Homo sapiens: one gene and its partners. The protein of the gene in region 3 binds, or shares a complex with, the protein of the main gene of each other region. Each region holds a gene or a part of one and is shown on either strand. Other genes may lie near its edges. The genes, in order: FGFR2, API5, FGF2 and S100B.

The links.
Region 1: the proteins of FGF2 (region 3) and FGFR2 are in contact, whole or in part, in a crystal structure (PDB 1II4), measured with the Homo sapiens proteins. Residues at the interface, in NP_001997.5 of Homo sapiens: Phe154, Pro155, Pro156, Gly157, His158, Phe159, Lys160, Lys163, Tyr166, Lys168, Gly170, Gly171, Phe173, Arg186, Leu197, Gln198, Ala199, Glu200, Glu201, Arg202, Gly203, Val205, Ser206, Tyr215, Val230, Phe235, Glu238, Leu240, Asn243, Asn244; in NP_000132.3 of Homo sapiens: Glu163, Lys164, Leu166, His167, Ala168, Val169, Pro170, Ala171, Asn173, Asp247, Val249, Glu250, Arg251, Pro253, Ile257, Lys279, Val280, Tyr281, Ser282, Asp283, Ala284, Gln285, Pro286, His287, Ile288, Ala315, Gly316, Val317, Thr319, Thr320.
Region 2: the proteins of FGF2 (region 3) and API5 are in contact, whole or in part, in a crystal structure (PDB 6L4O), measured with the Homo sapiens proteins. Residues at the interface, in NP_001997.5 of Homo sapiens: Asn169, Arg181, Arg223, Lys261, Arg262, Thr263, Gln265, Lys267, Lys271, Lys277, Ala278; in NP_001136402.1 of Homo sapiens: Asp145, Arg148, Glu184, Asp185, Val186, Thr187, Glu190, Glu219, Asp222, Gln225, Asn228, Asp231, Arg237.
Region 4: the proteins of FGF2 (region 3) and S100B are in contact, whole or in part, in an NMR structure (PDB 2M49), measured with the Homo sapiens proteins. Residues at the interface, in NP_001997.5 of Homo sapiens: Arg164, Tyr166, Cys167, Lys168, Asn169, Gly170, Gly171, Phe173, Arg186, Lys188, Asn243, Asn244, Tyr245, Arg262, Lys267, Gly275, Gln276, Lys277, Ala278, Leu282, Met284; in NP_006263.1 of Homo sapiens: Glu47, Ile48, Lys49, Glu50, Gln51, Glu52, Asp55, Lys56, Cys85, Phe88, Phe89, Glu90, His91, Glu92.

The regions. Positions count from the first base shown.
Region 1 is NC_000010.11:121,483,432-121,490,454, forward strand, and holds part of FGFR2 (fibroblast growth factor receptor 2 isoform 1 precursor), read right to left. Parts: intron 4,683-7,023; coding exon 4,560-4,682; intron 3,994-4,559; coding exon 3,923-3,993; intron 2,102-3,922; coding exon 1,964-2,101; intron 373-1,963; coding exon 267-372; intron 1-266. UniProt on the Homo sapiens protein: Tyrosine-protein kinase that acts as a cell-surface receptor for fibroblast growth factors and plays an essential role in the regulation of cell proliferation, differentiation, migration and apoptosis, and in the regulation of embryonic development.
Region 2 is NC_000011.10:43,335,980-43,343,002, reverse strand, and holds part of API5 (apoptosis inhibitor 5), read right to left. Parts: coding exon 7,009-7,023; intron 3,763-7,008; coding exon of another isoform or gene 3,725-3,762; exon of another isoform or gene 576-3,724; coding exon 493-575; 3' UTR 1-492. UniProt on the Homo sapiens protein: Antiapoptotic factor that may have a role in protein assembly. Negatively regulates ACIN1. By binding to ACIN1, it suppresses ACIN1 cleavage from CASP3 and ACIN1-mediated DNA fragmentation. Also known to efficiently suppress E2F1-induced apoptosis.
Region 3 is NC_000004.12:122,829,815-122,836,837, reverse strand, and holds part of FGF2 (fibroblast growth factor 2 isoform 18 kDa), read right to left. Parts: intron 1-7,023. UniProt on the Homo sapiens protein: Acts as a ligand for FGFR1, FGFR2, FGFR3 and FGFR4. Also acts as an integrin ligand which is required for FGF2 signaling. Binds to integrin ITGAV:ITGB3.
Region 4 is NC_000021.9:46,602,074-46,609,553, forward strand, and holds the start of S100B (protein S100-B), read right to left. Parts: upstream 3,010-7,480; 5' UTR 2,940-3,009; intron 351-2,939; exon of another isoform or gene 344-350; 5' UTR 343-343; coding exon 205-342; intron 1-204. UniProt on the Homo sapiens protein: Small zinc- and- and calcium-binding protein that is highly expressed in astrocytes and constitutes one of the most abundant soluble proteins in brain.

The DNA of each region.
Region 1 (7,023 bases), on a different chromosome or scaffold from region 3:
GGACTGCTCCACCAGCAGCTACACTGAAGGCAGCCTCGGGGATGTCCCTCTGTCTTTGGTTTCATGAGTCAGAACTCACAAAATGAAGTTCTGAGAAAAATCATGATTTGAGAGGAACCCATAGTTGAACTATCTGACCCTATGGAAAAAGAATAAACAAGACCACAGACTCCAACCAACAGCCAACAGGGGAGTGTGTGTGTAAAACACTACGCATGTCTCACAAGACAACCAAGGACAAGGGGCTTCTAGAAGGAAGTTCTTACCTCATTGGTTGTGAGAGTGAGAATTCGATCCAAGTCTTCTACCAACTGCTTGAACGTTGGTCTCTGGGAGGGCACTGCATGCCAACAGTCCCTCATCATCATGTACCTGGGAAAAATGGATTTCCTTGAATTAATTTCATATGCACTGGGTACGTGGTTATAGTCAGTTTTAATAGGCAATATGGGGACGTGGTGTAAATTAGGAAAATGCATCAGAACCTTCCAAGCAACTAGATTAGGGGGTCATGAATCACTTTCCCAAAAGCTTCCCTGCCAGTTCCTCCGAAAGGCACTTTGACTTACAAAAACATGTTAGAAAGGCATCGAAGCCATCAAGAAAGACACAGCTATGTGTTTTCCCTGGTAACCCTGGGCCACAGTGACATCTCACAATGGCGTCACACCCTAAAGATGCTTTGGAGGCTGAAGGAAAATGCGTATTTCCATGGGCTGGTCTCCAGTCTTCCCTCCCCTGACACCCTGCCCAGCACCAAAGCAGCTCCACTATTTATCTGCCCGGTGCTTTGGGTCTTAATGATTCTAGTTGACACAGCTTCCTGAGTTAAAAAAAAATTAAATAAAATTTGAAAACTACAACTTCAAGTTTTTGATGAATTAATCTGCCACCACTGGGCTGCACACTAACTTCCTGATTAACTCTTAGATAGGCTTAGCTTCCCAGGTCTTATCTTGATTTTGGGTTTCGACAGATCCTCTACGTTACAAAAGAAAAAAAACAATAGGAATGACAAAGAGCACAATAAATGCCTTTATATAATATGCTATAAAATGTGGCCATTCATCAGACATCCACGGTACACCGAAAAGCACTCACGGGATTACTGATATAAAATCCCCATGAAATGATACACAATAGACCGCAGTTTCTGGGACAATCACTCTTCTTAGTTAATCCTGGAGGGGTTGAGGCAGGAGGCAGAGAGACTCCTTTCAAAGCACTGATTCTATTGCACCAGGCACACGTCACAAACACAACATAACTCCACTTAAAGTGTGAGGCAGGTTTTGCTACAAACCAGTTCATGGTTTTACAGGCAGATCTGGTACAGTAAGGAGGGCGCCTGGACACATGTTTAATTCTCTGCACTAAAACACAAGTGAGACCTAGGTAACCAAACACGAGTTCCTTCGCTCTGAGGAAATGTGGTTGGCGTCAATCTGTAATGGCAATTTTCAATGGTTCGAGAAGTTCTGGAAACACCGATTCTCTACTGGCCACGATGGGGCCAGGCGGGGGCCAGGCACAACCACCAGGGAAAGGCTGTGTTGGTTCCTTAATCCTACACCCTGCAGGGCGGCCCCGCGGCTTTCTAGCTTGTTTCCTGACCCGTGGGTCTTCCTGTCACTCCACGGGAGACCGCAGAAGGTGCAGCACAGTGGCCCAGGAAGACCACTCCTGCTGGCTCTGCAAAGTCAGGAGCCCTCAGCCAGGCAGCCAGACACCCTCTGATCCAAAGCCCTCTCCATACTCAGAATAATGTTCTTTCTCTCAGACAAGTAATGGTTGTCGGTGTCGCTATGTATCCCAGCTCTGGATTGAGCCCAGAGAGCTTCAGCCATTCTTCTTAGAGCATGTTTAGGAAACCAGGGGCCTTCAAAAACGAGATACATCAGGAGAGGTATTACTGGTGTGGCAAGTCCACTGGGGCACCGGCAGGAAAGACAACAGCCCTTACAGTTCGTTGGTGCAGTTGGCTGGCTTATCCATTCTGTGTCCTTCCTTCAGCAGCTTAAAAAGTTCCTCCACGGGAATCCCTGGGTAGGGCGAGCCCCCTAAAGTGAAGATCTCCCACATTAACACCCCGAAGGACCAGCTGCAACAAAAGGAGAAAGCACGGCATTACTAACCCATCCACGTTGCCAAAACCTAAACACGCCCAGCTGAGACATAAACACCTCCTCACTTCTGAAGTTCAAAGACAAATGGGCCCTCCTGCAGTTCCTCCTATGTGCTCTTTCCTGCCCTGCAAGAGCATCCCCGAATGATGATGACACGGGGATGTGCTGATGGAATTTTCCATCAATAGACAAAAAGGCAAACTGCCATCACTCTGGAATAGAGCTGCTTGTCTTAAATGTGGTGTTAGCAATGCAAGGATCTCAGTTTCTCAGTTTCAAAGCCTTTACGCTCCTTTCCAACTCCTTATGTGCCTGACCCAAGGGTTGTGATCTACCAGGATGGGCAGTTGACAGAATAAGGCCAGCAAGCCAACTCCGCAGGATCACAGCTGCCCTGTGTGGCTGGCGGAACATCTGCTGCACAGAGGCTCTGGAACTTACTAAGATCGCAAAGGCAATCAGCACTGGGCTGGGGTTAGGATGAGGAATCACATGCCCCAGATGAGTTGCACACAACAAAACTGAACACATCTCACAGGCCATAATTTATTTACACTTGACTCTTCAGAGATTTGGACTTCCTGTGCCAAGTTCAGGAGGCTCAATCTCTGGGAGGAGCAAGCTGAGAGAGCCAGGTTTAGCTACATCATGGTCGTTCTGGAAACTCAACCTTCTGTACTCGATGGTGGTGTTTCACTCCGCAGTTTTCTACAGAGCAAAAGCAGCAGCACAGGACAGGCAGAACAGCCTCTGTGCCTCAGTTGCTCACAGCAAAAATGGGATAGTCATGTCTTTTTTTTAGGATTGTTGAGAGGACCAACTATGGTAGCACAGAATTAATGCCTACCCAGAACTCCTCCTGCTCATACAAATAAAAAATAGTTCAAGTGATTTTTTTTTCCCCAGACAGAGTCTCGCTCTGTTGCCAGGCTGGAGTGCAGTGGCACAATCTCAGCTCACTGCAACCTCTGACTCCCAGGTTCAAGCGATTCTCCTGCCTCAGCCTCCCAAGTAGTGGAGATTACAGACACGCATAACTACGCCCAGCTAATTTTTGTAGTTTTAGTAGAGACGGGGTTTCACCATGTTGGCCAGGATGGCCTTGATCTCCTGACCTCGTGATCCACCCGCCTTGCCCTCCCAAAGTGCTGGGATTGATTACAGGTATGAGTCACTGCACACAGCCTTCAACTGAATTTTCAAATCTAAAATATCAGTTGGAGCCTGACCCCACTGGTTTTGTCAGTATATCATAATAGAAATATTCTACTGTGTTTCTAGAATGCTATCAAGGATGCCAAAGCAAGATCAGACCTTTTTGTTGAGGGATAAACATAGAGAGTAGACCCTGTGGAGGTCCCCAGCCTGGACCACATCTCACTCAGCTCCACTCTTTAAGGACAAATCTGGGTTAGAGGGAAATATGACAAACTACTCGTAAGTGGGAAAAGCTCCAGGATTACTCCTTTAATGGAGTGAAGAACATGCCAAGAGCTTGGCGAATTAGATAACCGCTTTGTAGTTGCACATCCATGAATATGTTCAAGGGAAGGACTTCCGCTCTGGCAGGGGGAGGTCAGCAGTTCCACCTTCTGTGCTCTTTGAAGCCAGGCAGATTAGTAACAGAGCATTGGTTATCAGCCTACCATAAAATCTGTCCTTTCTAAGGCCAGCTCCTGCACCTTCTACGAATGTGTGAAATGCAGCAGCCACTAAAGAAGGAAGAAAGGTGAAGTACGTACAGTATTTTTGCAGCTCAAGCCCAGGAAAAAGCCAGAGAAAAGAGAGTTACTCACACATCACTCTGATGAGTGTATACTCTATCAAACAGGGCTTCTGGAGCCATCCACTTGACTGGAAGCCGCCCCTGCAAATGTAGAGGAAAATGCAAAAACTAAATATATTTAAAAGAATTTATCTTAGCAGGCTCAATAGGGCTATGCCCTGTTTAAGAGCTGATATTCTCGGTTTTTACTAGTCAGTCAATAGAGCAGAAATCAGTCCCAATGAGGACCATGAACAATGTGTGAGATGCACAGGTCTGGGCCGTTAATAAAATGCCATCTCCTTGGATTCTATCCTTTATCTCCCTAGCACACAGATGCTCCTTGACCAGTTATTAGGCAAAAATTAAACCAGTAACTTCCAAGCTGTAGTTTTTGCTATGAAAGTTCTTGATGAGAACCATAAGAAAATCCTAGCGGTTGCTGATTATTCTGTATATAAGTGTTTCACATTTACTAAAATTGACATAATAGAGGCTAAATTTGCATATTGAGAGTTTGTGAATAGTAAGTCAAAAGAACGGGAATCGGGGCAGGGGAATGGGTCCCCAGCCATCCCACCCAGCTCTCAACATTGACGGCCTTTCTTCCTGGAACATTCTGAGCCTCACCCCCGCCCCTGCCCACTGTGTTACTGCCATCGACTTACATTGGTGGTCTTTTTGTAATAGTCTATATTGTTGATATCTCTGGCGAGTCCAAAGTCTGCTATTTTCATCACATTGTTTTCTGTTACCAAAACATTTCTGGCTGCTAAATCTCGATGAATACACTGAAATCAAGAAAGAAGCAAGAGAAATAACTAATTTCAAAACACCGCCAGAACAAAAAGGAAATATGTTCATTTCTTAAAATGCAGATAGAAAATATAGCTGATGTTAAAAACCAGTTGCGGTATACTATAAGAAATACAGTGTGGCCGGGTGCGGTGGCTCATGCCTGTAATACCAGCACTTTGGGAGGTCAAGGTGGGCGGATCACTTGAGGTCAGTAGTTCGAGACCAGCCTGGCCAACACGGCAAAATCCCATCTCTGCTAAAACTACAAAAATTAGCCGAGCGTGGTGGTGTGCACCTGTAGTCCCAGCTACTCAGGAGGCTGAGGCACAAGAATCACTTGAACCTGGGAGACAGAGGTTGCAGTGAGCTGAGATCACGCCATTGCACTCCAGCCTGGGTGACAGAGTGAGACTCTGTCTCAAAAAAAAAAAAAAAAAAAGAAAGAAAAGAAAAGAAAACGCAGTGTGGCTCTAAGATTAAGAAGACAGGTCAACTGGGATCATCGGAGAGCCTGGATCACGACATGTATTTGTTTTGGAATTATAAATAAATAGAATGATCATTTTGAAGAGCGAAGGTAGACTAAATAACCATATTCTCTTCTACCTCCAGTTGTCCAGCCACACCAGTGTCTTTCTTTCAGCTGCTTATAGATCTGTATCTGATCATCCTAAAATCTTTTCTCTCAACACTTGCTCTCCTGCCCTTTAAACCTGAATTTTCAGAAGCGTTGGTTAAAATCCAACATTGTGTCTTCTTCATTCCTGGTCACTTCTCAAACATTCTAATCTGTGTTCCACTCTTGCCTCTCCTGAAGCTTATGAAGAACCTCTGAATTGTTAGACGCAAATGACGTCCTCCAACTCCTCAGTTGTTCCTCCTCTGTGGCTTCAGATGCTATTGATTTCTTGCTTGTTTTTTAAAATGGTCCCTCTGTTTAGGTTTTCTTGTTTTTGTTTTTTTTGTTTTAACATGGAGTCTTGTCCTTGTCGCCCAGGCTGGAGTGCAATGGTGCGATCTTGGCTCACCGCAACCTCCGCCTCCTGGGTTCAAGCGATTCTCCTGCCTCAGCCTCCCGAGTAGCTGAGACTACAGGTGCCTGCCACCACACCCGGCTAATATTTTGTATTTTTAGTAGAGACGGGGTTTCACCATGTCGGTCAGGCTGGTCTCGAACTCCTGACCTCAGGTGAGCCATCCGCCTCGGCCTCCCAAAGTGCTAGGATTACAGGTGTAAGCCACCACACCCAGCCCCTCTGTTTAGTTTTATCCCGTCCCCTTCCCTCAGCTGCCTCTCTGTCTCTCCCTGCCCTCTTAGAATCTCTGGCTGGCTCTTCTCTTTTTCTGTCCCTTCAAATAGAGGAATTGTTCCATTAAGTTTATGTATTTCCATATATCCTCAAGGCATTAATTCTAAACACATACAAAATATGCGCAAGTTCGTATCTCCATCATGACCTCCCTCCTGAGACCCATGTTCTCATTTTCAACTGTCTATGGGACACTTCCCCACTGACATTCCCTTGACGTCTCAAATTCAAGGTTTCAACTCCTCCAATGCTTTGTCTCTCTTAATCGGAGAGCTATACACCGGTATTCTTTACACATTCCTCCCAAGTCCTGTTGATTTCAACTCCAAAATGCCTTCCCATGTGTCCACACCATGCCTTTCCCACTGCTAATGCCTTAGTCCAGGCCATCTTCACTGTCTGCCCCTCCCCCTGAGACTTCCACACTGCCCGTCTAGCGGGTCTCTACGCTTCCAAACTTAGCCCTGTTGTACCTCCTCCATGTCCCATGACTAAGGTTCCTGAAATGACTAGTCATGTCCTTTCTTGGTCTCTACCATGGCCAATGCCCGTCTATCCACGTTCTCAGTCCAGTTTCTCCTAACACCTGGCCTCAGCCTGAATGTGCCACATACACTGATTCTAAACACTGAAATATTAAATACTTGCTGCAGAACAGCTAATTTATTGTCTTGACACTAACTCTTGGGTCTCAGAAAGATCTAGCTATTACGACTTTTCCTTCTTTTTTTTTTTTTTTTTTTTTTTTTTGAGACGGAGTTTCACTCTTGTTTCCCAGGCTAGAGTGCAGTGGCACGATCTTGGCTCAATGCAACCTCTGCCTCCCAGGTTCAAGTGATTCTCCTGCCCTCAGCCTCCCAAGTAGCTGGGATTGCAGGTGCCCACCACCACATCAGGCTAATTTTGTATTTTTGGTAGAGATAGGGTTTCACCATGTTGGTCAGGCTGGTCTCAAACTCCTGACCTCAAGTGATCCACCCGCCTCGGCCTCCCAAAGTACTGGGATTATAGGCGTGAGCCACCA
Region 2 (7,023 bases), on a different chromosome or scaffold from region 3:
CACTAGGTAGGAATGCTGCACCACTGCCCAGCAGCTTTATTAAACAATTAAAACAAAATGTTAAGATTGACCATTACTCTTCTCCATATATTGGGTAAAAAACTAAGAGGGAAGAGGAAAATCAGTAACCTTTCAAAACTGATGATCTTTATCAGCAGAACTAGACTGAATTTCATTACATTTTAGAATGAACAGCTCTCAACAACAAATTATCAAGATGTTTAAAAGATTCACAATTTGAAGTCTGAATAATGATACTGCAAAAACAAGTCAAGATTGCAGACAAAGCATCCAAAAATATCACTGTGGTTTTACCTTGGACACAACCATGGTCTGTTACAAAAGTAGGTCATACATACAAAGGTATAAAGAACATTAAGTTTTTAGCTGAAGGCAGCAGTCTGTTTAAAGGGACATCCCCGGCAATCCAATGAGTAGTAGAATTTAAGTATATTAAGCTCATGACAATGCTGAAGAATGCTGATGTCTTATTCAGTAGAGTCTTCCCCGACTACGATTTCCTCGTGTGCCCCAACCTCGGCCACCTCTACTTCCCCTGAAGGCTCCTCTCTGCTCTACGAAAAAGCGAACAAGGGTTTAGGTCTTGCTTAGGATTTCATGGTGCAGCAAACGCAGAAGAAACGTAGCTCATAACTCTGAATACAGCAGTAGGCCCTATAAGAACAGAACTAATATTCTGCTATTCAATCTACAAATTTAGCCTGTACATAAAACAAGAACAACATATATACTGAAGCACGTAAGGCAAGGTACCGACTACATTCATGGTAGTTGCTTAATTAAATGTATCCCAGTAACAAAGTTGTTTCAAGGTGATGTTACGATAACTACACTTTTTTTGGAGGGTCTTGCTGTGTTGCTCAGGCTGGAGTGCAGTGGTGCGTTCACAGTTCACCATAACATTGAACTTCTGGACTAGAGTGATCTTTCTGCCTCAGACTCCCCAGTAGCTAGGGCTACAGATGCACACCACCATGTTTGGCTATTTTTTTTTTTTGTAGAGACAGGTCCTCATTTTGTTGCCAGGCTGATCTCAAACTGCAGGCCTCAAGGGATCGTCCTGCCTCAGTGCTGGGACTACAGGTGTGAGCCACTGTGCCCAGCCCGTACACTTTTTAAAAAACTTAATTCTTCAAATTCACGAATAATAATTCTACATATTCGTGGGGTAGAATACTTTGATACAAAGAATGTACAGTTATCAGCTCAGGGTAACAAGCATATCCATCATCTCAAACACCTATAATTTCTTTGTGTTGGGAACATTCAATATTCTTCTATTTTAAAGTATATATTAACTATAGTCATGCTATAGTGGTACACAACACTAGGGCTTATTCCTATGTTATTTTGCATCCTCCCACAAATCTCTCCCTATCCCTTCCTTCCCCCTATCTTCTCAGCCTCTAGTATGCGCTGTCCTAATTTTTACTTCTATAAGATTAACTTTTTAAAACTTCCACATGAGTGAGAACATGCATTGTTTAATTTTCCATTGCTGGCTTATTTCACCTACTATAAAGTCCTCCAGTTCCTTCCATGTTGCTGCAAATGAAAGGACATTCTTTTTTTATGGCTGAATAGTATCCCATTGTGTATAATACCACATCTTGTTTAGCCATTCACCTGTTGATGCACCTGTTGATTCTGGGTTGATTCCATGTCTTGGCTAATGAATAGTGCTACAATAAACATGGGGGTGCCAATGTCTGACTTTTAATCATATGTAAATGAGATAAAATCTCTTCCCTGAACTTCCAACTTACTCATTGTGGTTTTGATGTGCATTACCCTGATGCTTAGTGTTTAGAATTTTTTCATACATTTATTGGCCATTTGTACGTCTTCTTTTGAGAAATGTCTGTTCAGATGATTTGCCCATTTTTAATCTAGATTTGTTTTGCTATTAAGATGTTTGAATATCTTCTATATTCTGAATATTAATCCTCTGTTGCATGAGTAGTTTACAAATATTTTCTCCCATTCTGTAAGCTGTCTTTTCACTGTTGATGGTTTCCTCTGCTGCACAGAAGCTTTTTAATTTGATATGATCCCATGTTTTTGTTGCCTGTGCTTTTAGGTCTCAGTCATAAAATCTTTTCCCAGACCAATGTCCTGAAGTGCTTCTTGTTTTCTCTTATGGTAGTTTTATTGTTTTAGGTCTTACATTTAGGTCTTTCATCCATTTTGAGTTGGTTTTTGTACAGGGTGGGAGGTGCGGATCTAGTTTCATTCTTCTGCATATGGATACCCAGTTTTCTCAGCACCATTTATTGAAGAGACTGTCCCTTTTTTTTTTGTCCCTCCAATGAGTATTCTTGCCACCTTTGTAAAAAATCAGTTGGCTGTAGATACGTGGATTAATTTCTGGTTCTCTGTTCTGTTCCATTGCTCTGTATCTATTTTTATGCCAGTATCAGGCTGTTTTGGTTACTACATTTTTGATTTATATTTTGAGATCTGGTAGTGTGATAACTCCAGCTTTGTTCTTTTTGCTCAGTATTGCTTTGGCTATTTGGGGTCTTGTGGTTCCATATAAATTTTAAGAATTTTTTTTGGTGGCAATTTCTGTGAAGAATGTCAGTTATTTTGATAGAAGTTGTATTGAATCTGGAGATCACTTTGGGTAGCATGGTCATTTAAAATATATTAATTCCTCTAATCCATGAGTACGGAGTGTCTTTCAATTTGTTTGTATCTCCTTCAATTTCTTTCATCAGTGTTTTGTAGTTTTCCTTGTATAGAAATATTTTACCTTCTTGGTTAATTTATTCCTAGATTTTTTTCACAGCTATTATAAATGGGGTTACCTTGATTTCTTTTTCAGCTAGTTCACTGTTCATGCATAGAAATGCTACTGATTTTTGTATACTAATTTTGTATCTTCTAACTTTTCTAAATTTATCAGTTCTATGAGTTTTTTGGTAGAGTCTTTAGTTTTGTTTTTATATATATAACATCATGTCATCTGCATAGAGAACAATTTGACTTCTCCATTCTAGTTTGGATGCCCTTTATTTCTTTCTCTTATCTACCTGCTCTGGCTATGACTTTCATGACAACTTCTTAGTTCTTTATTTATTGTCTATCATTACTAAAGGTAACTCATATAACTATGAAAAATATCTTAAATTATCAATAATCAATTTCGAAAATCAGGTTAGACTACAAAATGTCCCTTTGAATGCAATAAATATGCAATTTTTGTTTTGATCACAGTATTTCACGCAACTGGACTCACACAAATGTAGATCTAAAGGCTGAGTTTTTTTCACTGCTTTATCAGCTACATAAGCTTCTCAGAATACTGCCAAATAGGTGCTATGTGTGTATGTGCGTCTGAGTGTGTTTCAGCTACTGATATAAACTAAGCATATCTTTTGCTGAAAAATCAAGTCACTTGTGATGTACAGAACAAGAGTCTCTCATCCATTGGTCAGTCACTTTTATAGCCACAGAGAAATGGTCCTCAAAGGTGTCGTCCCATGAAGAAAACTGATCGAAGTTATCACAAGGCTGGACTTTTAATCATATGTAAATGAGATCAAATCTCTTCATTAACTTCTAAACTTCCTCATTATAGCAATCTTGTTAGCAACAATAGAGAGAGCTTGGTTTTGCTGTTTTTGATCCACAATCTTGGAGGCTTGAAAAATACCTTTTCAGTCAATTTTGCAATCAATTTTTTTGCCATTATGTCTTACTAGGGTGATGTCTTGATGTCTTTTTTGACCCCCCTTTCTGCAGAAAGAAAAGTAATTCAATTCTGAGACAGGAAACTCACTGGACCTTTCCCCAGTTTGGCTAATATTTATCTGTATAATAGAATGGGTCTGATTCAAAGTCACCTTCTTATGCCATGACACATTTTTTTACAAGCTGATTAGTATGCAAACCATTTGAAAATGAAATCATTGTGTTTATTATCCTAGTGAACACATTCAGAAAATCAGAGGTGGTTTCTCTGAGGGCAAGATGCTCCCAGAGACAGATGCAGTAACTATGGGAGCATTAAGGTAGTGCAGTAGCCTTTTGTGGGCCATGACTTCTGCATTTTTGACTGTTTAGACTTAGAGCCATCTATGCAGATGCCTGCACATTTCACCCTATCATACTCATTATTCACACCAACACACTTAACACTGTCATAGATACTATTATTAGCTTTAAGCTAAAAGACTATTACAATCCACTCTTTCAATTTTAATATGAATTCAGGTTACACTCTATTCAGCTGTACCTAATGAGGAAATTAAATACACTGTATGAAGGTACTATTTGACGTAGTTATCTTTTCTATATTGGCAAATGCTTTTTTTTTTTTTTTTTTTTTACCTCCAATTGATACAGCCATTTCTATAGTACAGAGATTCACCAAATTTTCTTCTTTTTGAAGAGCTTCATCCTAAAAAATACTCTGCATTTTCATGATCTTTTCAATAGTTTCAAGCTTACATTTTTTTTTTAATTCACTGCTCCCAGTTTAAATTAAACTTTAAGGATTATTTTTATATTCCAAAAAGTAAAGAACACAAGTCACAAAATGTAGAACATTTAGTACTTTTAGGTTACTGGGGAAACTTTGTGCACTGGAAGGAAAACTAAACGTGGGTATATGTTTATGAATGCACCGGGAAGTTGAACTAATTTGTGAGAACCAATACCATGTTTGTAAAGCAAAAAACAGAGACATTGGTTAGTAAAGCAATAAACTTGGATACTGAGAACTGCTTTTGTTTCAACAGGTGAAATAAAGTCAAGCAAATGCTTCAAATTTTGTTGTGAGAATACCTATGACCTGATCACATTAAATTCTCAAATGTAAAATAATTGCAGAAATTCACTCTTCTTTCTAATAAGAAGAATCAGATTTTAGTTTGCTTTTGCATGTTTACTTTGCTTTGCCCTTCTGTTATTTTGAAGACTGGGAATAACTGAAGTTGTGACTCGTGGATGTTTGTCTTGAGTAAAACTTTGCTTATGTTTCTCATGTTGACAGTTTTTTTGTGTCTTTTTAAAAAACACTGTATACAATCTAAAGTGTTAGATTTTTCACATTCTTTTTCCACATGCATTATATCACCTGATTCTCACTATTGAGCAGGCAATGAGTTTTACACAATAGAATCTTCATGTAAAATCAAATTGACTTGTCCAATAAAAAGGAGTACAATTCTTGTATTGCCATAGCTATTGATTACTTTCATTAAAGCCATTCTCCCAGTATCTGAGATAACTTTTGATTTTAAGAATGGTACTGTTAGACACATTAAATCATACAAGTGACAGAGAACAACATGTGATTCAACCAAGTAACGGAGAATCCTTTCCCCTTACAAAATACTTTCACAAATATTGTTATTAGAAGGCTGTAAGAGCTCTTACCTCATTTTTCAGATAAGAGGCAAGGAGATGCACATTTACATACTGTTATGTAAATAAGAGAGTTCAGTGATCATCCTTAAAGTAAAGGTGTCTCAGAGTCTGGAGGGGAAGGGTTCATTTCAGTCTAAAATTGGCTTTCTATATAATCTGTTTGTTCAGACATTAGAAGAATTCAACTGTTATAGAAGTAATTTAATGTTACAATTCTCTCACCTTGGAAACAAAATTACAGATATTATATGGTTCAGAATCTACTTTTTTTTTATTTTAAGAGACAGGGTCTTGCTTGGTCACCCAGCTGGAGTGCAGTCGCACCATCATAGCTTACAGTAGCTTTGGCCTCCTGGGCTTCAGCAATCCTCCTGCCTCTTGCCTCCTGAGTAGCTGGGACTATAAGTGCGTGCCACCATACCCAACTAATTTTTAAATTTTCTTTGTAGAAATGGGGTCTCGCTTTGTTCCCCAGGCTGGCCTCGAACTCTTGGGCTCAAGTGATCCTCCCACCTCGGCCTCCGAAAGTGTTGGGTTTACATGTGTGAGCTACCATGCCTGCCTAAACTTTGTCTTTTTTTTTTTTTTTTTTTTTTTTGAGACGGAGTCTTGCTCTGTCGCCTAGGCTGGAGTACAGTGGTGCGATCTCCACTCACTGAAAGCTCCACCTCCCAGGTTCAAACCATTCTCCTGCCTCAGCCTCCAGAGTAGCTGGGACTACAGGCGCCCGCCACCACACCTGGCAAATTTTTGGTATTTTTAGTAGAGACGGGGTTTCACCCTGTTAGCCAGGATGGTCTCGACCTCCTGACCTCGTGATCCGCCTGCCTCGGCCTCCCAAAGTGCTGGGATTACAGGCTTGAGCCACTGCCCCCGGCCTAAACTTTGTCTTCTTAAGCAAGGTAAGGAATTGACCTGATATTTCTCTCCATTCTTTTAAAAAAAAAGATCCATGAGGAAATAAGCCAATGAGAGATAAACTTTACTTTTGATTCGACAGCCGTGGGAGAGGATGGACTGGTATGAAGCTCTCCTGGCTCTAATGGCTAAAGGGGAATAGGAAGCACTGATAGGAGGATTGCATTCTGGGCAGAGGGAGAGACTGCAATAGAACACATCTTCCTTGCTAGATGATGCCTGAACATCTGACTCCACTTCTGTTATTTCTTTTTAACTAGCTACAGAAGATGGGAGTATAGGCAGCAGGCTGACTATGTCCAAGAAAGAGCATTTATACTATCTCTCAGAAGCTATACCCATCCCTGAGGGAGAATGCACAGAATGCCTTGCCTTGAAGCTGCAACTGGGAAAGCATGGAAAGAATGGTTCTGTCAACTTATTTTGTTTCTGTTGGTTCCTCTGAATACAAGAGGCATATTTTTCTTTAAGTGCTTACTGTTTAATGTTGCATGTTCAATACAGTCAGCCCAGAAGGGTGAATGAGAGAGGAATGGGATAAATCATTTCCTCAACAGCCCTAGTTCTCCAAGCTAATTCAGAAAAGTCATTGGATAGAACCATGACACTGTATATAATTACTAATTAAAATAAAGTATAACACAATTTCTGCCTAATCTCTCATATTCCTTGTACCCAAACGGAAACGCTCACCATAATTAAAGTTGC
Region 3 (7,023 bases):
CTTTGCCTTTATTGCTTCCCTTGAATAATGTTAAAGGTGTTTGCAGAAAAGAACTACAGTGCTGTTGCATTCAATTTACCATTTTATATGCCTCATACTATAGTATTTATACTTATTTGAAGTTGTTGCCCATTCAACAAATATAGAGTGAACCTTTTCATGGGACTCAGACTGGTCACTCATTCAGCAATGAAGCCAAAAGGACCCTGGGATGAGTAAATTCAGCCTCAGACCCTCAGAATAGGAAAGAGTAAAGAACTACTGGGTAATGTGGTCTGGATTTTTTAAAAATAAAAATTTCTTGCCAGCTAGGAATTTCCAGTAAAACTGGGGGACATAAAATTAAAATACAACAAGCTATTAGAGAGAATTTTTAGATAGCACACAGAAAAGGAAAGATGGATACAGGATGATGTGAAAGAAATAAGGCCCAAAGCATGACTGGAAATGGGATAAGGTACGAGGACAGACAGGACATTTCAGCTTAAGGAAAACTGCCTGGTTAAAGGCTAAGATGACAAGGAAGACAGGAGACGTGAAGGGAAGGTCAGAAAGGAAGTTAAGAGACTTGGCTAATTTATTGAGTACATCTTCAATTTAACAAACATTCTTTGAGTGGCCACTGTGTGTGAGGATAGATGCAGCAAATGGGATCCAGTGCTTGCCTACAAAGAGTTCACAGTCCCAGTGCAGAAGCCAGACACATAAACCACTAACTATTACAGAAAGCATGAAGTTCTGTGTTCAGACTATGTACCAAGTATATGGGAAAACAGTAAAAACCATTAATTCTCCCTGGGAAGGTAGAGGAAAGTTTCACAAAGAAGTCTGTTGGGCTGGATCTTAAAGGATTTTTCCAGAGAAAGGTGAGGATGGGAGGAGTTGTGAGAGAGAAATTGATAAGAAAAAGAAGGATTTTTCAAAAACAAGAGTCACATGAAGAAAGGCCAATCATTGTGACAGTAATCGTTATGACACATTAAAGAGACTATAATTAAAGCACAGAGTGCTACAGCTTCAGGAAGGTATGGATGGTAAACAGTAAGAAATAAGGTAGGTCATGTTTAAGAAGGAAAGCCAGGTAGGTCTGGTTAGTGCTTAAAATTGCAGGAGAGTAGAGGTCATTAAATCAAGAGGCAGGGCAAGGAAATCACTATGGCTGGGAAACATTTTAGAGAGATATATACGAAAGAAGTAGAGAAAGGCATCAAAGACAATTCCATGGTGTCTAGCTTTGGAGACAAGAATAATAATTCACTACAAGCAGAAATTCAGGAGGAAAGGGTGCTAGTTTGAGAAAATGGTGTTAAGTTCTGTTTTATGTATGTTAAGTTGAAGCTATGGCAGTGTGTCTGCCCTCCAAGCAGTGGGAAATTGAGATGGGGAATCAAGACAGAGACAGAGACAATACATGATCTTCTGAAGGAATACAAGTACACAGAAAGAAGAGTAGAAGGCTAAAAACAGAACCTTGGGGGAATACAAATGCAAAAAAAAAACAGAAGAAAGTGGAAAAAAAGACAGTTGGATGGGCAAAAGTATAACCGCCTGAGGAGTTCTTCCAGCCTGCTGCACAAGGAAAGACCACAGCATTGCAGTAAAGAAAGAGTTTAATAAACACAAGGCCGGCAAAGCCACATGGGAGATAGAGTTAGTACTCAAACCAATCTCATCCACAGCTCATGGGATAGGAGTTTTTCAACAGCAGTTTGGGGGAAAGGGTGAGGATTGCTATGCAATGGGTGCTTACTGATAATTCATTGGGCTGAAGATGAAATAATAGGGGGTCAAAGTTGTCCTCTTGAGTGGAACCATTCCTGGGTGGGGCCACAGGAGTGGTTTAGCAGGTCCAGCTGGAGCCATGGGTGTCAGACATGCAAAAAACCTGAAAAGATATCTCAAAAGGCCAATCTACAATAGTGGTGTTATCTGCACCACTATTGGTGCACTAGTGGCAATCTATTAATACGTCTACACCTTAGCACAACTCAGATTCCTGTCCTCCCCTGAAGCCTGAGGGCCTTTCATTAGCTTTATAAAGGCAGTTGAGTTTTGGGGAAGGCTTATTATCCTTTAAACTATCTCCCAAAGTTATCTGGGCCTAAGCCCAGAAATGATTAAGGCAGCTTGAAAGCTAAAGGCAAGAGGAGGGGAGTGGGCTAGGTCATATCTCTGGCAGTGTCATAATTTTCTCAGATATAACTTTTGCAAAGGCAGTTTCAAAAGGAGAACCAGGTTGATGTGATGTAATAGAAGCCAAGGAATTATCAAGAAGTCAGAGGCAGACAATACTGCCACATGTCAGAGTAGCATGAAAAATTGGAAAAGGCCACATGATTAAATTAGAAGACTACTGGTGCTCTCATAAGAATGATTTAAGTGGAATACTGAGGGCAGAATCTAGAATTTAAAAGAGTTCAAAAAAAGAAAAGGAGATGATGTAGAAGAACGTACTGATTCCAGGATATTATTCACAAAAGAAAATAAGAATGAAAAACAATGCACAGCATACCTGAGAAAGTTTTATATTGCATAGTGAGACAGGACAGCCAAGTATAAAGGGGTCCCTGGAGAACCTCCAAATGGCCTGCACACTGGGAGAATGGGGTGGAGCCACAGAAGTTCACGCCCTTTGCAGGGAGGAGACTGGTCTCTCCTGTTCGGGGTGGTAACTTGGGAATCAATCTGTGAGATGGGGGCCTGTTAATATGAACCCCTATTGCTTTGCTGTGTTGTTTTTCCTTTTTTCTTTCTGACCAATAAATTCCATAACCCCTCACCCTCCAAAGTGTCTGTGAGCCTAATCTTTCCTGGGCGTGTGACAAGAACCAGGATTTTCCTACAACAATAGTACATGATAAAAATCTTAAATACTTTTAAGGAAATCAGAATTCCCAATAAAAGTTCTAAACAATTTTTCCTGAAAAATGATTCATCTTTCTCTAGATTATTCTAAGAAAAACTAATAGCCAGTCTCCAAAATTCCGAAATGTTTCCCAAATATAACTTTGCTATATATAATTATCTTCATTTAAAGATTGACCAAGTATCTAAACACAGATGTCAAGACACCAAGAAAACTGTAAACTTTGACCAAGCTTTATACAGCATATGCCTCATGAGTAGTTATTTCACAGCAAGTTCCACAGAGAATGTTTTCCTCATCAGCTGACATTTAGTGAGCACTCTCTGAGTAAAAAGTACTGAGCTTTTTATGATGTTTATTTATATAAAGAAGTCATGGTTCCTACCTTAAGGTGCCAGCATCTTAAGGTGCCTAAATTATGAACAGAGAATAATCTGTTCACAGAATGCAGCCAGATCATTACTACTCTGTACAAATTTCTTTTAAAAAATACTTTTTTCTTGGCTAATTTGAGTTATCATTTAATTACAAGTTTTCATTATAAATTAATGTATAGCTTAATTATAAATTAAACCAGGATCATTCCTTTCAATTGTTCAATTATATCTGGAACATACACTTAATATTCACATAGCTTCTCTTCAATTTTTAAATCTCCAAAATACCTTGAAAATCTGTGAACTTTTCATTTCAGAATTCTATTGGATAATTCATCTTAGAGGTTAAATTGCAGAAGTCAATAGCTCTATAAAAATACAAATACACACATACACACACACACACACACACACATCCATTATACATTTCTGTAAATGAGTAAGTATCAAAGATACACCGGTCAAGTCAAAAGTCACCTTGTGCAGGAAGAGTGACAGAAGACAGCTGGATGAGACATAAACACTGAATATTGGCTGTCTGTTGCCTCCAGGCCCTTCCAATTTCTTCAAACTAAAAATATTCTGAAGGTGTTTAGAATGAGACTGGTCTGGCTTCTAAGAACCACAGTCTATGGCTCAAAGGGTGAGTTCCCCTGGAAGTTGCCACTTTTCTTTTCCTCCTCTCCTAAATTCCTGTGGCTATACATAACCTAGCTTAAAAGGCCTTGTTGGCGGTCATTATTAAAGGGAGAAAAGAGAAAGCAGGAGCTAACTGAACAGTGGATACAACAAGGAAACACTTAAAATCACAGTGCCATAAGTGCATTTTCTAATGATCCAGCTAAAACTCTACACTGATAATCATTATTCCAAATTATTATGCAAACAATCAAGCATTAACTATTTATTGAGCACTGACAATATACAAATTAAGTACTAGACCAGATCCTAATTTCAGAGCACAGAAAAGGACAAACTCAAAAATAAAACAGAACAAAATACATTTGTTTGGACAGAATATCCTGATGAGGTTAAGATTTGTGCCCCAGGCTGGGCACGGTGGCTCACGCCTGTAATCACAGCACTTTGGGAGGCTGAGGTGGACAGATAACCTGAGGTCTGGAGTTCGAGACCAGCCAGGAAAATTCATGGTGAAATCCCGTCTCTACTAAAAATGCAAAAATTAGCTGGGTGCGGTGGCAGGTGCTTGTAATCACAGCTGAAGCAGAAGAATTGCTTGAACCCAGGAAGGAGAGGTTGTAGTGAGCTGAGATTGTGCCACTGCACTCCAGCCTAGGTGACAGGGTAAGACTGTGTCTCAAAAAGAAAAAAAGAAAAAGATATGTGCCCCAAAGATACAGATTTGCCTTGCTCCGTTTCATGGTCATAGACTTTTATCCCATGCCAGCCTTCTTACAGACGTGTGCTACGGGACATAGGGGCCCAAGTAGGGTATCTGGAAAATCAACAAACACTAGAATTGGAAAAACAAGCAAAGACTACAGCACATGTGTAATTACCAGCTTGTACAGGCATCTCGTGGTTTTAAAATAGTAGTTCCAATAATGTGAGACCTTAAATTGTCTTTTCAACATCACTGATGATGAGTTCTCAGAATCAGTGTATAGATGAAGAAAGTCAATTTTATGCTTATGATATTTAAAGAACCGTTCTTGTTTTGTTCATTACATCTGTAACATTTTATTTTCTAATTAAACTTTAAAATTATGTCCTTCCACATAAAATGGCATCATAAATCAAAATGAGAATACTTAAAACCCAATTGTTACACCATTGTCAAAGTCTAATTACATAACGGTCATTTTATAAACAAATGAAACCCCTCAGGGCATGTCATGAGGGGATATTGCCTTTTCTAGGCTGAAGTCACTTGGCATCAAACTCATCTTAAAAGGCTCCTAAGGTGTGGTAATATCTATGACTCATGAATTGTCCTTTCATTGCTGTACTGATTACATGATTTCCAAGATTAAATGAGCTATTAGATTCTGACTTCATTTGTTTACTGCACCCAATATTTATTACAGTAAATATCACGTTCATTAAGTAAAATTATTGCTATCCACTTGCCAGATATTACCAAAGAGAGGTGGGGGGAGAGAATCTAGTACGTGTATTATTAAATCAATGGTTCTATTTACCCCAAAGGCAGTAGTGAAGAGATGGAAAGGTGGCTTTATCCAAAACCCCAGGAAATCAACCTGAGGCACCCGTAAACTAGTAAGAACTCTTCAAAGGGGCTAGCAGCTCACTACCCTGAAATGGAGGAAGCCTAACCAAAGTGGGGTCCAGCAGGGCACACTCTATGGTGGAATGAAGAGCGCACTGAGGCTGAGGGATGGCAGGAAGAGAAGGCAAGGGACCAGGTGGTAAGAAGCTCATTCAGGATAAAAAAAGAGGAAACCCACAAGTGAACTTGAGTAATTGGTGACTTTTCTGAGCTTCAGTATCCTCTTCTGTAAAAAGAGATGGGTAAACCAGAAGGTCTGAAGCCTCCCTTTGATTTCACAAGTCCATGTTTTTATGCTTGGGGTTGCATGGAACACATGCAGTAGCAAAGAGCCCAGGGGTCAGGCCCACCTACAAGCCACCCCTGCTCCACACTGGGGTGGGCAGGTCTGCCTTTCCAAGTCTCAGCGTCCTCTGGAGCCTGCAAGCAAAGAAGTGTGGCACACAGGCAGTCACCTCCTGGGAGAAGCCCAAGGGTAGATACAGTACTTCTAACTACTCTCATTTTTTTTTTTTTTTTTTTTTTTTGTAAATAAGAGCACCTGGAATAAATTGAATACTAAGTGTACATAAGCAGCATACATTTCACTTACTATACTCTACCACATGTTGTACGTGCTGCTTGGGATAAAGTGTTCTCTCTTCTGAATGTTTTTACACAGCTTGCTACTTTAGAGTACATACTTAATATTATCCATTCCCACCGCATTGAAAGAGGCCTGCCAAAAGTTAAGGATGCCAAAAGAAAGGCAGGAGTGCAGCGCACATGCTGGAGAAGGAGAAACTCTCTAACCACTTTTAACATCTTGTTTTTATCAAGACTCTCATGTCAAATGAAGATTATTCCAGGACTATGAGAAAAACGCCAGAAAATGGGCCCTTTTGAGTGCAAATTCAGGAGAATGCCCAGGTGTGAAGCACAGTTGACCTTCAGCAACACTGAAAAATTGGAAACATTTGTGTTGTGTCATCTTCTCCTACCTCTTCTTTTAGAAAATTTTCCTCTCTTTCCTACCTCACAGCTTCCCACTCTGCCTCCTCTTCCCCTGCACCTCTCCAGGACCCCATCATTTATATCACAGTCTTCAAAGCATCCCTCCCCAAACTCCAGTCCTTCTGGCCAGCTTTTGGGGAAGAAATTGCACTCACAATTTAATCCATACTAAATGTTAAAATCTGATAATGGTTGAACTTGGCCTTTCAAAAGTTACCTGCAGTTTAGAAAACATGTAGGCACAAAGTGTCATGCCAAAGGAAAAAAAATTCCAGTGACAGATGTTCAGGTCAGTTGGACAAAACAGTCTGAGGAATGAGACCATAGATTTTTCAACTTTTCAAACAGGTCTAGAAATCTGAGCCATAATGTAGTAGGAAACTGTGGCTACTATTAACTCTTCTCCATGTTTTCTGGTCAGTTTTATTTGTTTTGGGGGGTCTCCTCATGGTTTGGTCAACTATCAGTAAACATCCAATATGTGAGAAAATAATATACTGTACTTAAATTTATGTCCAGGTTGGGCTACATAGAAA
Region 4 (7,480 bases), on a different chromosome or scaffold from region 3:
TTGATAAGGAAATGAAAACAAGGGGCTCATTTGAGCCAGCCCCACACTGAGGGTTCCGTTACTCAAACAAGTTTGCAGAAGCAGCCCAGGAGTCTTGGAAGGGAAATGAAATCACCTTCAGGGCAGCTGAGAAGATAAAGCCAGTGTACAGATGGATTTTAAGAGGAGATGGAGAAAGTGTCAAGTTTAAAAAGCAAGACTCACCTCTAAGAAATGGGAAAGCTCATTGTTGATGAGCTCCTTCAGTTCGGATTTCTTCAGCTTGTGCTTGTCTCCCTCCCTTCCAGAATATTGGTGGAAAACGTCGATGAGGGCCACCATGGCCTTCTCCAGCTCAGACATCCTAGGGGCTCGCAAAGGAAAGTTGCCTTCTCATCTATACCTCATCCTAAAACATTTCATATGTTATCAATACAGACCTCAACCCAGACAAGGGGGATGGAATGGCCTTGGCACTCTTTTCAAGCTCAGAGCAGCAGGCATGGCCTGGAGGGGCATTCTGGGAATTTGCACTTTTATCATAATCCTTCCACCGGCCTCTTAGACAGCTGTGGGCCTGCCTTCTCTGTCCGTGTGGGCCACGGGGATATATTCCCATGCCCTCTGAATTCTGGCTGGGTTGGGCCAACAGGGAAACTGGCAAAAATACAGAGGCAGAGCAGCAAGGGAATTCAGGGATTAATTTCCCCTGAATTAATCCCCACAGGGTCCCTCTCTGTTCCTGCAAGGCTCCAAGATGAGGTGGTAGAGTGCAGGTGAGCAAACCATCAACTGCAAGCTGTTAAAATCAATCTGAAAGTGAGACAGTGACTAGGAGCAAAATAAGAAGACAAAAAATCAATAGCATTCCTATATTCTATCAGTAAAGAAGTAGAAAATACAGTGCAAAATATCCTATGCATATAGCAATAACATGTGATCTAAGACTAAGTTTAGGAAGAAAAACGTAGGTCCTTCCAAGAGATTCTGAGGAACATAAAATGTAGGAAGTTTTTCCTTTAAATTCATATGTAAATTTAAATCATTTTTAATAAAAACAATGGAATTTTTTTGGATGGGTGACATGACAAAAACAGCTGTAAAATTCATCAGGAAAAATAAATATGGTAGAATTGCCGCAATCTTTTTGAAGAATAACAGTGAAAGTTATTTGATCTACCAGGAAAAAAAAATGTATCCTAAGTTTAACTGATCAAATGGGTGTGGTTCTGTCGCAGGGAGGGACAGAATCCAGCAGAAAGCTGAGCTGCTGAGCCTGCATTCCACCTCCAGTGTACCGAAAGGGTGGCTCATTCACTGCAGTGACTGGGACGGCGGGAGGGGGTGGGGGCAGGAATAGGTGTTTCTCTGCAGCTGTCAAAGTAAGAGCCCCCCTACCTCCCTCACAGCAAGTACCTTACGCCACAGCCTACGAACCAAGGAAATATCTGGTCAGTCTGGGAATGAGGCGCATTTTACAAAGGTTGCCTTGTCAGTTGTTTCACAAAACAGATGCGCAGTCAGAGAAATTTACCAGCTTTTGGCCTTGAGTTCTAATCATTAAATAAGAACGTTTGCGCTGTCATAATTAAAAACAAATTAATAAATCAAATAGTGTTGAAAAATCATTCCCATGTTGAATATATAACTTACATCTTAAAAATAATTTGGAATTATTTTATTTATTTCTGATCCTCCGAAGGAAACAGGATTGAAGATTTTTTTATACTGGCCAGATCTTTGCTAAAGTCATTCTATTAATAATCAGTGTACTTTATTTTGCTCTTGAGTCCCTAAAAATTTGATAATTCACAAATAGAACAATTAAGATGGATTAAAATCTTTAACATTTCATGCTTTCTTATTCTTTGCACTCAAGTTTTCAATTATTGATATATGCATGTTTGTATGTGTGTGTATTTTTTTAAACAAAACAAGACACTTTTACATCATTCTGATGCTCCTCAAAGTCCATGATGATTTGGGGAAAAGGAGGTTAAATTGTTTTTCTATGAATTGTGACTAATGGGATTATTACAAAGGAAAGGCATAAAACATGTATCCCATATATTAGAACACTAATAGAAACCACTAGAAAATATGGTTTTCTTCATAACCACACTACAAATCAATTAAATTCTTGTTAAATTTTTCCCTTTGACCTAAGAAATAGTTGATGGTTTATAGTTTATCTTTTAAGAGAAATGGAAATAAATGTCCGTTTCTTTCTCACATTCTTTGAATGTCCTACATTAATCTTTTAATATTGAGAACAAGAGAACTTTTGAACTTTAACTCCTTAGAAAGACAAGTTACCTAGCGTGTGAGGATCCCTCTAAAGAAGGGGTTCGACCTCCCTGAGAAACTGTGAGACTGAGGAAAGTTAAAACCCACCAAAACCCCGATTTCTTTGACCCAATTTATTTGTAATTGTTACGTAATTTCTGAGTGGCGTCCTGGGGCTGTGGGGACCCTGGCACTTCAAACTGAGGGAAACTGGAAAACTGAAGAGTTACTTACCCAGGGCGGTGGAAGAAATATAAGGAGAAAAGGGAAGCATTTATTTATGATATAGGACTAAACTAGCATTAGGTTCTCCATCATTTTTAGCCCCAGTGGGAAGCAAAATCTTTACTCTTCAAATAGTTACAGAAGAGGCAGTATTTGTAGTACCGCTGGGAAAATGTCAACAATCACTTCTGGGCCATGAAACCTGACGTTTCTCTGATTTATGGCAAAACACACCTCTAGCTGTCTAGGGCTGATGCAGTCAGGTGTCCACAAAGCAGCAGTAATGTGGAGATTAAAACACATCATCCTATTGACACTTCTGAAATGCTGCCAATTGTCCTAAAGGGGCTTTTTAAGCTACCACTTAGTTTCTACCCCTCCATTCCGTTCCACCCAAAAGAAAAGAACCATTTCTTCCTGAGCGTCCTCTTGGCCTGGCTCTTTCTCACCTCTTCCTTGTCTCACCCCTTCCTGGTCTCCTTGCTGCAGGCGTCGTCTCTGCTGCGGGTCCTGGGCGGCAGGACTGGTGGGCAGAGGCAGCCTCTTATTCCCTCTGCCCAGGGAGGATGGATGAACCCTGGTGCAGCCCACTGCAGGCCGTGGCAGCCAATGGGAGCCGAAGGCGGGGGTGGCAGGGCTGCCAGGCCTGCACACAGGGCTGCATTGACCAAGCAGCCCCGGGGACTTGCTGGGAGCCAGGATTGCACATGGGCTGAGGAAGAAAAAAGGGCCTGTAGGGCAGGAAGTGGGGAGTCAGCTTTTTGTGCGATTTCTTTATTACATGAATATTGATGTCACCCTAAAGGCAAGGTTGGGGGTGGGGAGAGGAGAGAGACTTGGATTAATTGATTCAAACAAAGCAAATGTGCAGCCAAGAACAAGCAGCTTCCAAGTACAGGCTGAGCATAGGAGATTAAGTGGCCTGCAAGTTGGTTTCTAATGGAGAGGCCCCTGGAGCTTCTCTCCTCTGCCATCCTCCAAGTCTGGCCCCACTGGGCGTGAAGTTCTGTGGACAGTAGTGCTTGTCTGTGGTCAGCCCTGGGCTCAACGGGGCTGCCTCAGAGAAGCTGCTGAGGCCAGTGTCTGCAGGGACTAAAACGGGTGGTACTTTTAGGGGAAAACGTGATGTGTGGACTGTATCCCAAGGCCTTTCCCTCCACCCCAGGGTGGAAGGTCACAGACTCTCAGAGTTGGACGATGCCTTAGAGATGTCCCGTTCGAACGCTGTTTTACAGAGGCGTGTGGACGGTGTGCCCCCTTGCTGAAGCCTCCAGCCAGCCTGAGGAAGGAGAAGTCCAGCTGTCCCCTCAACTCGCTCGACTGGAGCCTCTGAACACGGGGGCCAGTTTATGGGTTCTTCTTCACAAGAATGAAGAAGTAGGTGTTCCTTCTGACAAATTACACAAGAACATTGGCCCAAACTCTCCAAAAATGTCCATGGTCCCCAATGGATGCCTGACCCAGCATCACGTCCTTCTCCCAACCCAGTTTCAAAGTGGCCGTGAAAGGGTTTCCCACAAGATATCTGTGTACATGGCTGTCTTGCTGTCATTGTTTTATCCAGGACGTTCTCTACCATTCAGGATCTGTAAGTGTGCCCTGGAAATAGCACAGGGCTGAGAGCTGTGGTCTTGCGTGGCTCAGCCTGCCCCAGCCTCCTGTGAGGAACAGCCTGAGCAGTGTGGTTGGCCCTCACTTCCTCATCGGCTTCACCACCCCTGGCTGTGGTCTCTGCTGAAGGATCTGACACAGGCTTGCTCTGTGAAGCACAGAGCTTGCCCAGGCCCAAGGAAGGCACAACTGTGCTCTGTGCCCCTTCCTCGCTCAGATGTTGGAGGGACCATTCCTGTAAGTGCTGACCACTTCCCCAGAGTGGCAGCCTGAGCTCTGGATTAACCCTTCAGTGTCCATAGAAAACGCTCTAGCCTGCTCCTGCAGGGGTTAAAAATAGTTTGAAATCCACTCATGCAATGACCGTACACCTGTGCTTAGGGCACTGCGTTCAGCAGGAGGGCCCAGCCGGGCCTGCCCTCTGCACACTGCAGCTTCCTGGGATGGCAAGTGTGGGGCCGTGGGTCCACCCTGTTCCCAGGTCTTGGAAGCAGGCTGAGAGAGAGGATCTGCCACAGGGAGGAAAAGGGCTTTCAAGCGCTCTGGGGCCCCAGGATGGTATTCTTTGCCCAGGCTCCCCAGGAGCTCGTGGATACAACCTCACCAGCTTCCCACAGATTCCTACAATTGCTGGGTCTGAATCTTGGCTCCACCATTTAACAGTGGTTTGACTTTGGATAAATTCCTAAGCCTTTCTGTGAAAGGGGTGACCGTAGTCCCTACTTTGCAGGGTTGTTCTGGGTGTTTTTCCCTGACCTTCACACTTCCTGATCACCCTGGCTTACCTGTCCTGACCCCTCAGTTTTAATCTTATCCCATTAGACTGGACAGCCACCAGATCCAATCATGTGTGACTCCCACATTCACCCACCCCCTGCAGCTACATTCCACAGGAAGACCCTTCGCTAAGTAATGAGAAATGCATTATTGAGTGAGTGGAACACCTGAAAAGTTCCATGGTCTGTAGCCTACATATGACCATGTGGATTGCTAGACTAGACCTCTGATTTCAGCGGGACGATAATATTTCAGAGTAGCAGGCTAAGACAAGGTGGGCATGTCAGCCATAAACAGCAGAAGGAACACACCGATAATCAGAATGCCTTGGTCCACAGAGATTTTTGGCAGTGGTGAATTGCTCACAGTGTTCCTTAGAATGAAGAGATGGACAGTCGCTAGAGTAGTCTTTAATCCACACAACAGGAAAACCTCTAGGTCTGGTCACCGAAGTACCTAACTTGAATCACCACAGTGGAGATCATGGGCTCTCTCCGAGTTTCCAGACCTAAGTTGGGTCAGACCTAGAGCATCTTGATTGAAGGGAGAAGCCAAGGCCCCTTGAGAAAGAATCTGTGCTAGTGAGAAAGAATACCATAAACCCTCTTCCACACCTTTTCTGAAGTGTCCTGCAGCCATCAACTAATGAAAAGGAAGTAACCTAGATGTCTCAGGGATTGCCTCAATTGACATAAATTCCTGGGAACCAAAAATGGCACTGTGGCTCACCAGTCAAAGCAGAAACTTGTGATGGTCAGTTCTTCACTTGATAGAGGTTCTAACATGAGACCGACTCACAGGGGGCCCAGTTGGTACACTATTCTCCCTATAGTTAGTTTTTCAGTTCCTGGTTGTATAATTGAAACAAACATACACTAGCTAAATCCCCTCACTGGCTCTCTTACGTATGAGATGAGGACCATGATGGTAGGAGAAGTTTAGTGAAAGTCCCAGAACTTCCCCTTCTTATCCAGAAATACTGAATCTCTGAAAGAGCTTTGGAGATTAATGCCACCATTAAAGGGTTGAAATAAGCAGGCACTGTGACACTTCTTACAAACCCATTTAACTGGCCACTTTGGCCTGTGCAGAACTCATATTGTTACCAGAAAAAGGGGTCTCGATCCAGATGTAAAGAGGGGATTCTTGGATCTCACGCAGGAAGGAATTCAAGGTGAGTTGCAGAGTGAAGTGAGAAGAGATAGTTTATTGAAAGCTCTTACATTCCATTACAGAGTAGGGCATCCTCAGAAAGCAAGTAGAGGAATGCACTGTCTTTAAGTGCATATATAGCTGTTTTGTCTATGTAAAGATTAAACTAAGCTGTGACTATATGCAGGCGAGCAGACAGCGTGGCAAAATTTATTATTCTATTGATTCAAAGAAAACTATCCTTAAGATTTTAGTGTGTGCGTACGTTAAAGCATAGCTCTTGTTATCTTGAAAGCGTATAGTGTTTGGGTATTGGGATGTCTGCACTCTCTGTTGTTGTAGCAGTGTGTCCTTGCAAGTATCGTTCAGCTGTTTCCTCAGCTATAAACATCTTAGGTCTATAGGTTTTGACTGCAAGAAATGTGCCTTGTTAATCTCAAAATGCAGCTGAACTTAAAGTGGCATTACTCTGACTCTCCTAGGCGCCTGCTTCCCTAACGATATGGATTATGAAGAATGTGGACTATTGCAAATGTAATCAGCTGGTGACTTCAATTACAGCTGCTGTACCAGATGAGAAATCTCTGCTGGAGAAAATCAACATATTCTCTGGCACTTTGCATGCAGGTACTGATCTTACTCATGCTTTTTTCTCAAACCAGTTTGCAAGGACCACCAGAAGCAGTTTACTTTTACCTGACAGGGTGAACAGTATACACTCACAGTGTTGCCTGAAGGACATGCCAGTTCTTCTGCTCTAAGCAATGATATTGTCTGCAGAGATCTAGTCATCTTGTCAGTTCACGCAACATTACACTGGTCCACTAATATTGACAATATTATGCTTATTGAATCTGAAAAAGAGGAAGTAGCAAAGGTGGGAGATGATCTCCACAAAACTTAGGGGCCCTCCACCTCAGTGAAGTTTCTAGCAGGTTCAGAGGTGTGGAATACGTTGAAATATCCCCTCCAAGTGAAAAACAAGTTGATGTATTTTGCGCCACCTCCTGTGAAAAAGAAACACAATATTCAGTTGGGCTTTGAGGATTTTAGATACAACGTTTATTATATTTGCATGTGCTACTTTCAGCCTATGAGGCTGGAAGTTTCAAATGGGGGTCAGAGAAAGTTTAGGCTGTAATGTAAGCTGCTTTACCACTTTGCTCATAGGATTCGGTAGATCCAGTGATATTTGAAGTGTCTGTGGCACATTGAAATGCAGTGTGGACCCTCTGACAAGCACCCATAGGAGAATTACAGCACAGAGCTCTGGGATTTTGGAGTAAGTCTACGTTCTCTTCTGCAGCTAACTGATCTCATTTTGAGAATCAGCATCTGGCTTGCTTTTGGGCCATAACCATGGGACATCAGGAGACCATGCAGCCTAAGTGCTATCTGGTCTACCTGGCCATAAAGTTGGGTGTGCATGTAACAGCAGGGTACCGTCACA